2 separate regions of the Homo sapiens genome follow, and region 2 is linked to region 1. Evidence: fine-mapped expression QTL. A gene starts in region 1. The other region holds a variant in brackets. All regions are shown on one strand. Distances are between the middles of the regions.

What was found.
Region 2: its variant is fine-mapped to the expression of RASGRP1 in whole blood (TOPMed, PIP 0.94).

Annotation. Positions count from the first base shown.
Region 1 is chr15:38,562,072-38,567,447 of GRCh38, reverse strand. It overlaps RASGRP1 (RAS guanyl releasing protein 1), which reads left to right and starts at 2,634. Exons shown (of 17, transcript NM_005739.4): 1 at 2,634-2,854. The coding sequence starts at 2,820. RefSeq lists enhancers at 2,028-2,217, 2,059-2,570, 4,953-5,052, 5,113-5,242 and silencers at 2,428-2,477, 2,638-2,877, 2,908-3,127, 3,138-3,337.
Region 2 is chr15:38,683,156-38,688,531 of GRCh38, reverse strand. All of the region lies in intron 1 of LOC105370775 (a long non-coding RNA gene), which reads right to left. Among named protein-coding and RNA genes, the nearest start is that of LINC02694, 11 kb to the left of the region's middle. The variant G/A (reference allele first, on the strand shown) is at 2,444.

The sequences.
Region 1 (5,376 bases):
TTAGATGTTTGGAAAAGACTTATTGCTCAGGTAGGAGTAGCCAGAAAACCTCAAAAAAGAGCTCGAGGGGGCCCAGAAGCAGAATCAGATGCAAGTGAAGTGCAGAGTACTCAGAAAGTCCAAGAGAAAAACACTCGCTGGGCATATGTAGGCCTCTTTCTTTAGAAAACTCAGCAAGACTCATGTATTGAATGAATTAATAACCTTGGTTTCAACCATTTGTATATATGTGGACTGTAGGTGTGCAGATGTGTGTAACTGCCTACATGTGCACTTAGTATTATGCATATATGTATATTTACATATAAATATAATGATGCATTTACATAAAGGCATCCATTTGGCATACATACCTATGCATATGCAGTATAAGGCTGGATTATTCCCCTGCCACACACAAAGATTTTGCTGTCCAAAGACTCAGTGCAATGAATGGCATGGAAGGGGCTCTATTTTCAAGGGTGAAGCAATAGAGAAATACCGAAGGCCTCGGATAACCTGTGATGGGGATCCCACGAAAGCCACCGGGGACAGTGCCAGTAAGCTTATCACTCCTGCCATAGACAGCGGACTTCAAAGAAAAACTGAAACCCTTTCTCCGGAAATAATCAGGAAGGATCTTATTTTCTTCTTTGAGGTCAGCACATTTTGCTTTTCAAAATCAAATCCACAGCAGTTCATTAGTAATGTCCCACAGGTACTGCCTCAAGTTGGCAGCTGTGGAAGCTAAAGAAGCATAAGACCTGATTCTTGACCTCGGACAATTTACAGTTTAGCTGTGGAGGTAAGACAGGGACACAGAATATTATGTGGCAATTGAAAGTGTAAATATTATAGATTTAAGTAGGGTAAAGAGCTCATTCTGTAGTAGAGGGGTCAGTGAAAAGTAATTGTTCACCTGGTAATAAGAGAAGATCTCTGTGAACAAAGTCTAAGACTGCAAACTTAGGACTGTTGGGAGATAGTCAGATAGATTCATATATAGATACAAATCTTTACCATCCTCAGACATCCGCCAACTTGGTTGTTTAGGTTGTAGGGCTTACATGAGGAAGGGTGTATAATAGATAACTCTAAAAATGTTTGAGCCTTAGACCCAGTGAGTGAGAAAGAGTGTCATCATTTAATATTCTCCTGACATTCACCTGCCCCTTCTGCATCTGTGGCTGTGACTGAGGACTTGGTTCTTTATATCACCCAGTGTTCATGAGGATTCTCTGGAGAAATTTCTTGCTGGTCTCAGTATCAAGAAAGGGGGATCTTCTCTTGAGCAATTTTGTTTTTGGTCTTGCATGTGATAGGAATTGAACTTTAGACAAGGCCTCTCTTTAAACTTGACTGCTAGAAATGCAGGAGACAAATTTTGGTCCCACCTGTAGCAAGGGTATTTGACTCTATGAGATGCATTTATTTCAAATGATGTTCATTTTTGGCTCCATCTTGTGTGCCTCATTTTTCATTTCACACACTTCTTTTTGTAGGTTATGTGCTCTTGTAAGCTATCTCGAATTCTGTTTTAAGGACAAGGTAGCATATAAATATAAGGAAATATATAAATGAAACAGAGGAAGGCTTTAAAGTCCAGAACACTATGGCCAGGAAGACAACTATGACTGTGGCTAGAGTTATGGTCTGTGGCCGTGATAATGAGTGTGTTATTAGGGCAGTCCAGCAGTGATTACAGGGAGTCAGACAGACCTCAGTCCAAGTCAGAGGTCTCTCTGCTGTTTATTAGTTGTATGATCTAAGGCATAGCATTCTCTAAACCTTCATTTTCTCATCTTTACAACAGTGATCTCTTTGTATCAGGGAGAGTGGATTAAATGAGGTAATGTATAGAAAGCACTTAGCACAACCGCACTCAATCATTAGCTATTGAGATTATCAGCACTATCACCTGGACAAGCAGCGGATGGGCCGCCCCTCTTGGCCAGGTCTTCTGTGCGCACTGACGTTGTATGAAAGTTGTCCCCACATCTCCTACACCCACCGACGCCAGGCGGCCGCGTCTGGGCCAGATATGGATCACGCCTGTGGAGCGCACCTCCACACAGGCAGCCCTCGTCCAAGGTGCAGGGCGCAGGGCACAGGGCACATGTCTACGGCCCAGTCCTGCAGACGGCTACCTAGAGACCCCAGGGCACAGGTTAAGGCAACTTCACAACTGTCTTTCCGTTCCTTTCCCCTGCCGGACTCCGCGCTCTGATATATACAGGAGAGGCCCTGGAGGGGAGAAGGCGTCCTCACTGCAGTGCTCCGAGCAGCGGCCGCAGGAAGAGGCGTGGAAGCTGCGGGTCGGCTGCGGGAAAGGGGGTCCCATGGGAGCCGCTAGGCGCAGCCCGTTTCCCGAGCTGAGGTGGAGGTCGACGGGCACAGGTGCCCTGCAAGGCGCGGGCGTGGTAGCCGGGAGCCCGCTCCTCTCCAACTCCCCTGAGACTTAACCCTTTGGCCAAGAGAGGTCGAAGGCGGGCAGGGGTGAGAGAACCGCGCGAGGCGCAGGCCGGGGCACCCGCGGAAAGGGGGCAGGTTTCGGGGAAGAGCGGCGGGGCGCCGCACGTTTCCTGCAGCCGCCAGCATCAGCGTGTCAGGTGGTTGCCAGGCGGGTGTGAGCGCGCGCGCGAGGCAGAGGGGGCGCGCTCGCACAAAGTTTGTGCCTGCGGTGCACCTCGGTCGGGCTCGCCGGGCTCGAGGGCTGGCGGGCGCCGGGGCTACGAGGCCCGGGGGGGAGAGAGCCGGCAGGCGGCGGCGGTGGTGGCGGGGGCGATGCGCCGCGCCCGGCCGCGCTAGGTGAGCCGGCACCGGGAGCGCGGGCCGCGGCCATGGGCACCCTGGGCAAGGCGAGAGAGGCTCCGCGGTGAGTAGAGGCGGCCGTGGCCCTCGGGAGCGCCTGTGTCCTTTCTTGGGAAAGAGGCCCCTGCCCGTCGCCCCAACACCCCGAGGGAAGTTGAGGGCGGAGGGGGGCCGGGGTCGGCCGGAGTCCCGGGACACCAGCGCGACGGGCGGACGTGTCCAGAACGCCCGGCGCGCTGCGCCCGGGGTTTCGGGGAGGGAGCTGGGGCTGAGGGGTGGTAGAGGGGCGGCCGCGAGGCCAGAGCTCGTCCGGTGAGATCTGCTAGGGCCGAAGCTCTTCGCGGAGCCGGCGCCCGCCCGCCGACTTCCTCCCCCACATCTCCACGCCCGGCATCGGGACTCCCACTCGCGGACTTTCCGCGCTGCCCGCACCTGCTGGGGCGCTGGGCTCCGGCTGCGCCACCTGGTGGCCCCTCCCGGCCCTGCCCAGAACGGCCGAGGAGCTTGCAGGGAGCCCGCAGAGGTGGCACCCCTCGGTTGCCCCTGCCCCACGGAAGTTTCCAGATCCGTGGGTCAGGGAAACATATCGCCTTCCGTATGGGAAGCTGCACTCCTCTCCCCCTCACTATGATTCTATAGAGGGTCTTGGATAACAGAAGTTGAAGAAAGAGGGACAGTGAGTGAAAGGGCTCTTGGCCAGGCAGCTTTGAGTTTGTAGCCAAAGGACCAGAACTAGGCAACTGCATGAACAAAGGCCTGGCCTCGGCGTAGGGGCTGGACAAGTTGTGCACTTCACAACTCCATTCACATCGACACTGATGGGACTGTGCCTTGCACCACCATACCCAGTAGCGGCAGGAAGCTTGCGATGCTGGACTTCCCGTGCTTATAATCCCAGGAACGAAGGATTCTTGGCCCTGTATGCACGCCCTGCCTCTCCCCATCCAGGTATCCCCTGAGGGTCCACCACTGTACTTTGCACTAGATTCAGAAGGAGGAGTTCAGTACATTAAATTGAGTATTGTAAGGGGAAGAGGACGGGACTGGAAGGAATCCATACTAGAAGTCAAGAGAGTCACCTTCCACTGCAAAGAAAGTTGTGGAAGTTCCAGTTCCCTTGCTCCATTTCATCTCTTACTTTTCTAGGCGGATTTCATAAAAAGCTCAGCCTGAAACTGACCTCCACTGAGATACCTATGCCTGGAGAGGATTTCACCTAAACCAGTTTAGAGTTTTGACGGTCTCCTTCAGCAAACCTATGGGGCTTTGGTTACTTTTAGGCTTGGAAAACACCTTCAAGTTAATTTGTTTCTCTCGGGGTTTTGGTTTTTTCATTTACAGGAAAACATTTGGCTACTGTATTTTTTTAAAAAATATGCCTTTACAGACTCAGAGGCCATTCATTCTATGGATTGTTAAAACACCTTCGACCTGCCTATAATAGAGCATTTTATAAATCCTTGTCTACTCCCATTTCACCAGAAAAGGCAGAACGATTTGAGGATTTTTCACAAGGCAACCAGTTAAGAGACTGTACAGCAAGAAAGCCAGGTTTCCTAGTCTATGGTGCAGATAATCCCCATCTTCTTAGAACTCTGAGGCTGCACTTTGGCTTTTAGTACTTTCTCTTCTCCCTGTTCTCTCATGGCCTAGTCCTCTGAGTCTCTCTGGGCTCCATACTTCCCAGATTGCTTTTGTCACCCTTTCTTCCCTTTTACTACCCTATACTTTACCCTGATCCCTTCTAGTTCTGGTAAAAGCATCAACCTTCAAGAATCCACTTATGAAACAAAGCGGTTTCTCTTACTGGTGACACTAGGAAACTTTACCAGAATTAGAAAACAGGGCAGGATTAGGAGTCTTGAATGGTCAGTGTCACCAACCAAGAAAGAAAATGGAATTTTCCTTGGATCTGTAGCCACCTCCCCTCCACCCCTAGCAGGAAGAGCTCTGTCAGTAGATAGAGCCTCTAGTTGCAGTTGCCTCTTCTCCAAGGTCTAGGGAGAAGTATTGTGGAAGGCCTGAGAGAAGGAGACTTCTACAATGAATGACTTTATTTTTTTAAAACCTTTCCCCTACTCTGCCTTTGGTGGAGGTCTTAATGGTGACAAAGGCAGCAGCTGGGGCAGAAAGCTGAGTAATCCCAGCAGTGGCTATGTAGCCCCAGGTGTAGAGAGTTGTTAGTGCTTCCAGGAAGGGAAGGGCGCCCACCTGGGGCGCACTGCATGGGCCACAAGGGGCTGGCTTCTAGCCTGTCTCTGCAGTGGTGGCCAGGCACGTTGCTCTTCTGATTCTGGACCTCCACACTGTAGAAGGGGGCTTTGGAAAATGACCATAAAGAGTCTGTCCAGCTCTAGGGACCTGAGGACAGTTCTGAGGGCCTGCAAGAGGAATATGGGCTGAGATTCAGCCTTTACATTACCAGTTATGCTTTTGAAGGATTTTGCTTTCATTTTAAATTGAATTGACCTTTTCAGCCTCTCTGTGATTGTCTACTACTAATCCTGATGTTGTGAAATGTGCAGAGTTCCAGGCACAGTCAATATTTATTAAATGAATAAAGCCAGAGAGGTGCTGGGTACAAAT
Region 2 (5,376 bases), 120 kb before region 1:
AACCCAGGAGGTAAGTAAGGCACAGAAGACCTACAGCTTAGGGCACCCATACAACTGTGCCCACCTCCCCACAGTGGACACCCCACAGCACTAGCTGCAGTTCTCCTGATCCTCACTAGAGTAGGTCTTGACATATTTGTCCTTCCCAAATGTACTTGGAATTACCTAACATGCATTAGGCCCAGCTGTGCTTATGGTGTTGCTCAGCTCCCTCCCACCAAGCAACTGTAATGGCTGATGCCTTCTGGGTGCTTCCTGTTGAGAGGGCTTTATGCATCATCTCAAGTCATCTTCACGATACCCCCAGACAGCAGTGCTGCTAGCATTCCCATCTCACAGATGAGGACACTGCAGTGCAAAGAGGCTACACAACTTCCCAAGCAACTAAGTGCCGTGGTAAGTTATGCATAAAGCACATGGGAACACTGGTAAAAGAGTAAGTTAATAAAAAAAAAAATAGTCATAACTAACGCTTACTGAGCTCTGTGTATCAAGACCTGGGCCAAGTGCTGCGTGAACTCCCTTTCCTTAAATCCTCGTATCAGCTGGTGTGGCAATTACATCAGAAGCATTGGCAGGCTCTGCTATCAAGGAGAGTGACCACATTAAAAAAGGCACTGTCTTTTGACCTTTTGCTCTATTATCTCTCGCTCTGACTGCTAATGTTTCAAACGGAGGTTGAACAGAACCAGCTTTCCCACTGCTTCCTTGAATGTCCTCTCATTCTTCACAACCATCATGTCTGGGATAACAGGTGGGCTCCCGGTTCTTCCCCTCCCAGAACTCCAGCTGTGCCACTAGGAATTATTATTATTCCCAACTTAGAAATGAGGGAAGAGAAGCTCAGATAAGCTAAGTAACTTGAGTGAGTTCATTCAGCTTTCAAGGGAACAAGTCATGGTGGGGAAAGGGAGGTATAAACCCAATGTCTGGCTCCAGAGCAAACAAAGAAGATTAGGGCATCTCAGGCAAAGGAAACAGCTCAGACAGAAGTATGAACACATGTGTTTGATTAAGAGCTCTAGATGAATGTGTACGGTGGAGTATAGGGCACTTGGTGAGCAGCAGTTGGGTAGTAAAGGAATTTGTATGTTGTAGGGGAGGAAAAAACTTTTCCTCTCCTCTCTCACGTTCAGCCTGTGGGGTCTGCAAATTGAACTGACAAAAGACAGATGAGCAAGACAAAAAAAAAAAAAGAGTTTATTTACACCTGCAACGGAGAGATTCAGTGAGGAGTAACTCATCCCAATAGACAGAGATAAAGGGTTTATATACCAAACTTAGCTAGGGGACTGGGGAGGAGTGTCAGGGCTTCAGTGAGAAGGTATAGAAGGTTCTATCAGGCTTTTTGATGTGAATAGAATGGGCAGTCTATCTCCCTGGCAGCTGAATTCACAGGGAAGACCTCAAGGGAGGGCTACTGACAGCTGTATTTTCTGAGAGGTTCTGCTTTACAGCTTTTAGAGAAGTTCAGATAGTAATTTCTTTCTGCATCTTCTTTAGCTTAAATGTTTTGTCTTCAAAATATTATGTTGGTACAAAAGTCATTGTGGTTTTTGACATTAAAAGTAATGGCAAAAGTAATCTTGATACCAATTACAGGGGTTTTGAGTGGTTTCCCACCATGCCTGGTAAAACATGGCTCTTTATCCTTCAGCCAGAGCTTTTTAAAGCAGTGTTTTGATATGATTTGTTCTACTTATCACTAAAACCTTTGGCCAGGGTATATCAAAATAATTTAATTGATTTAGTTAATTAGCAAAACCCATAAGGAAGGATAACAGCACTATTATCCCACTTATGTGAAGAAGGAAACCAAGGCAGAGAAGTTAAATGATGTGCAAAGGATTGTGGATTATTAGTCACAAAGCAAAAACCTTGTGACCCGGTCTTCCAAATCCTGGTCCTGAACTCTGTCCAAGAAAGCTGCCAATCGGCGTACACTTGCTCCCGTACTAAAACACAGGAAGAGCTCCAAGCCCTAGTTACTCCCACCCTTGCCACATTCAGGGCCTACTTGAGCTGCATTACTTATGTGCCGTCTCTTCCACAATTTAGCCGACAAATGCCCGCCACTCTCAGTGTCTTTTGTGTTTGTAGGTGGAAATATTTATTTACAAAGCAAGAAAGAAAATTCAGAGCCCAGCTGACTTTGCCATCCTATGAGCCTCTGAACTGCCTGTTGTACTTTCCCTCTCTAGGTCAGAGCAAAAAAATAATTAAACTTCAGCAAACTGAGTGACTGCGTTTCAACAAGTTTAAAGCATCTCATTGAAGAAAATACACCTCAATCTGGTTTGAGATCCTCGGCAGACTTTGTCACCCTATCATGTTGGGTAAATCCTTTGAAGAATTCTTAGAACCTCATCACAGGAAAGGGTGGCTTAGGGGCCTCTAGCTGTTCTCTGGGCTCCTTTGAGCTCAGAGTTTTGATGTTAGGTGG[G/A]GCCAAGAAAAATTGTTTGCAGGGAGGGAGGAGGATGGAAGGAGTGGCAACCATGGGCCAGAAGAACCAGTCACATAAAACCTCGGCTAGCCAAGTATATGACTTCTGAGGACAGAGGGCCCCTTCTTCATACACTGCTATGTCCCCAGCCTCCAGCACGGCACAATAAATATATTTTAATATAGTTCAAATATATTGCTGACTAAGCAATGAAGAAAATAGGAAGAGGGGACTCAACCAGGACCCTGGAGACAGTGGCCTGGGGAGGAGTCCTGGTCCCAGGCCCCCAGCTACATGACCTTGGGCAAGCTGTAGAACTTCCCTAAGCCCATTTCTCCTCTAAAATGGTGGTCATAGGAACATCTACCTAACAGATATTGGGGCCAAGGGAAGACTTCCCCATCACCTTCTGATGTTTCGCTGGAAATTGCTGACAAAAGCTGATTAATAGGAGACAAGGCAGACACATGTATTTGATCATAGTTTTACATGACACCGGAACTTTCAGCATGAAGGCCCAAAGATACAGGGGGAACTGTCTATTTTATGCTTATGTTCAACAAAGTATGGACAGAAAGGGTCTGATCTAACACTTACTGACTGGGGAATCCCAGCACTGTCCATTTCAATTCTTCTGGGTGTCTTGTGCAGTGTTTCTTCCTACTGGGTGTGGGGCAGGACCCTCTCTAGGATGGGGGTCTGATGACCTACAGTCAAACAAGGCAGGTCAGATAATTTCTTCATGGCCAGTTTTTACACAGAAAGACAGTAGGAAAGTTAAAGTAATATTTTTAGGTTATGGCTGGCTTGGAGGAAAAGGGTTCTGGCTTCTATTACCCACTTTGAGGAAAAGGGATTCTAGTTTCTATGGTTAGCCTTGGGAGAGAATGAGAGGTCAGAGACAGGAGGGAAGGACAAAGTCAGAGAGAAACTGTTGCTTTTGAGGCCTTCATTTCGGGGTATTGTTTTCTAAGACCATACACATAGTACCCATGAGAATTGAAGGAGAAGCCTCATAAAAACACTTAGCCTGGTGTCTGTCACCTACCAAGTGCCCAATACATGTTAGTTATTATTAATTAAAAATTCAAGATTGTCCTCCCTGATCCCAAAAAGTCTGTCATTTCAGTGAACTTCCAAATTTTTTTTCTTTCTTATTCCTAGAAATGGTATTTGCAAGATGGGTGTATTTCTACATCTTTGTTCACCACCAAACAAACCAAAACCATTTCCTCAACCAGTTCATCAGTTCCTCATAAACAAAGCACAACTTCTCAGCCAAAAGTTTGTCATCAAAAGCTTGCTTTCTTCATTGTTTAACTCAGTTGTGTTTTGTTTCTTATTTTCTGGGAAATGTTGTTTTCCTTAGGTTCTCTTGCCCAGAGCCAGCAGTCAGGCACCACTGTTTCCATCTCACTAAGCACATCATAGGCATCCTGGGGAGATAATGGATTCCAGAGAGCAAGGGGCCACTTACATGGAAGAGCCCAGAGTCCCTGGGTAAAGGGTGACAGTGCAGAAACCTCACTAATGCACTCTTTCCATTACCATTCTGCAATTTTTCCTGTCTTCCACTATTACCTTCGATTAAGCTTTACTCTTTAAAACCCTTCATCTGCCCCGGGGTCATTATCTTTCATCTGACACAGCAGTCGGCAGCCAGAGATGGCCCTGGCACTTCTCGGAAATCTCAAGGTTTGGGGCCGGATAATTTTTTAGAAGCCTCCTTAACATGGTTCTTTACCTTGAATGTTTTCAGCTTTAACAAAAGCCATTTGAACACGGGTCTGGAAAAAGTGATATACTTGAAGAAAAAAAAAAAAAAGTCACTGGCTTTATTTGTGTTCTGTTCCCTGGAGGTGGGCAGGCCAGAGTGGAGGTAGACCACTGAATTGATTTGTTTTGCAACTGATTTAGCAGCTATGGGTAGATTCTTGAATTTTCTTTGGTGTGTCATTTTAACTCATTTTGTGTCCTGACAACTCTGGAAACCCGGGCTACTCCAGTAGCTCTTTCACCAGCCAAACCTGAGAAGAGAGAAACTGAGGTGGGCCAGAACTGATAGGAAAGCTGTGCTATGACCCCAAGAGAATCTCACTCTGGAGCACTTGTCTACCAAAATGTTGGAAAATCTTTTATTTTCTAACACTCTGTTTCACTTCCCCACACTCCCACTTGCATCTTCCAGAAATAATTGAAATCCTGGTCCTTAGTCTCTACATCATTTAAAAGTGTCTGCTCCTGTAATATGTGTGTGCTGCCACTGGATGGCACCAGAAGTCACAACTCTGTTGGTATACTATGTGCCAGACACCTTGCTAGGCATTAAGAATCCAGTAGTGAACAAAAAAGACAGGGTCCCAACCTCTCTCTCTGAGTCAAGCAGGAAGGCAGACCTTAAACAAAATATTATAAATATTTGAATGACAATGCTGAGAGGAAGTGTCCAGAGGCTAATCCTGGGAGCGGGCAGAGACAGCAAGGTTCACACATGTTCTATGGCCCTCCCTGCATTCTCCAGCCACCTTGCAGTTAGGCAAGGCCTTGTGACCATTGAGGCCAATGAGATGTGAGTGAAAATCATATGTGACCCCTTAGAGCCAAGGTAGAGAAAAGTGAGTATAATTTCTCTATGCTTGTCTCTTCCTTTGCTGTGGTAGCTGGTAACATGATGGGTGGCAGAGCCTCTGCTAGACTGAATCCCTGGGTAAGTATGTGGAGGACAGCCATCATAGAATCATCACTAACCCCATGCTTCTTGACCCCAATCCTCCACAGCTCATGTTGGATAGGTAGCACAAATTTTTATTGAATTAAGCCATAAAGAGTTGGGGGGTTGTTTCTGCAGGTATGTCAGTCTGCCTAAGGACTAACTTTCTAGCTGCAGAGATGGAACTAAGAGTGGAGTCTTTCTCCTCTAAGTGAGTAGGCCT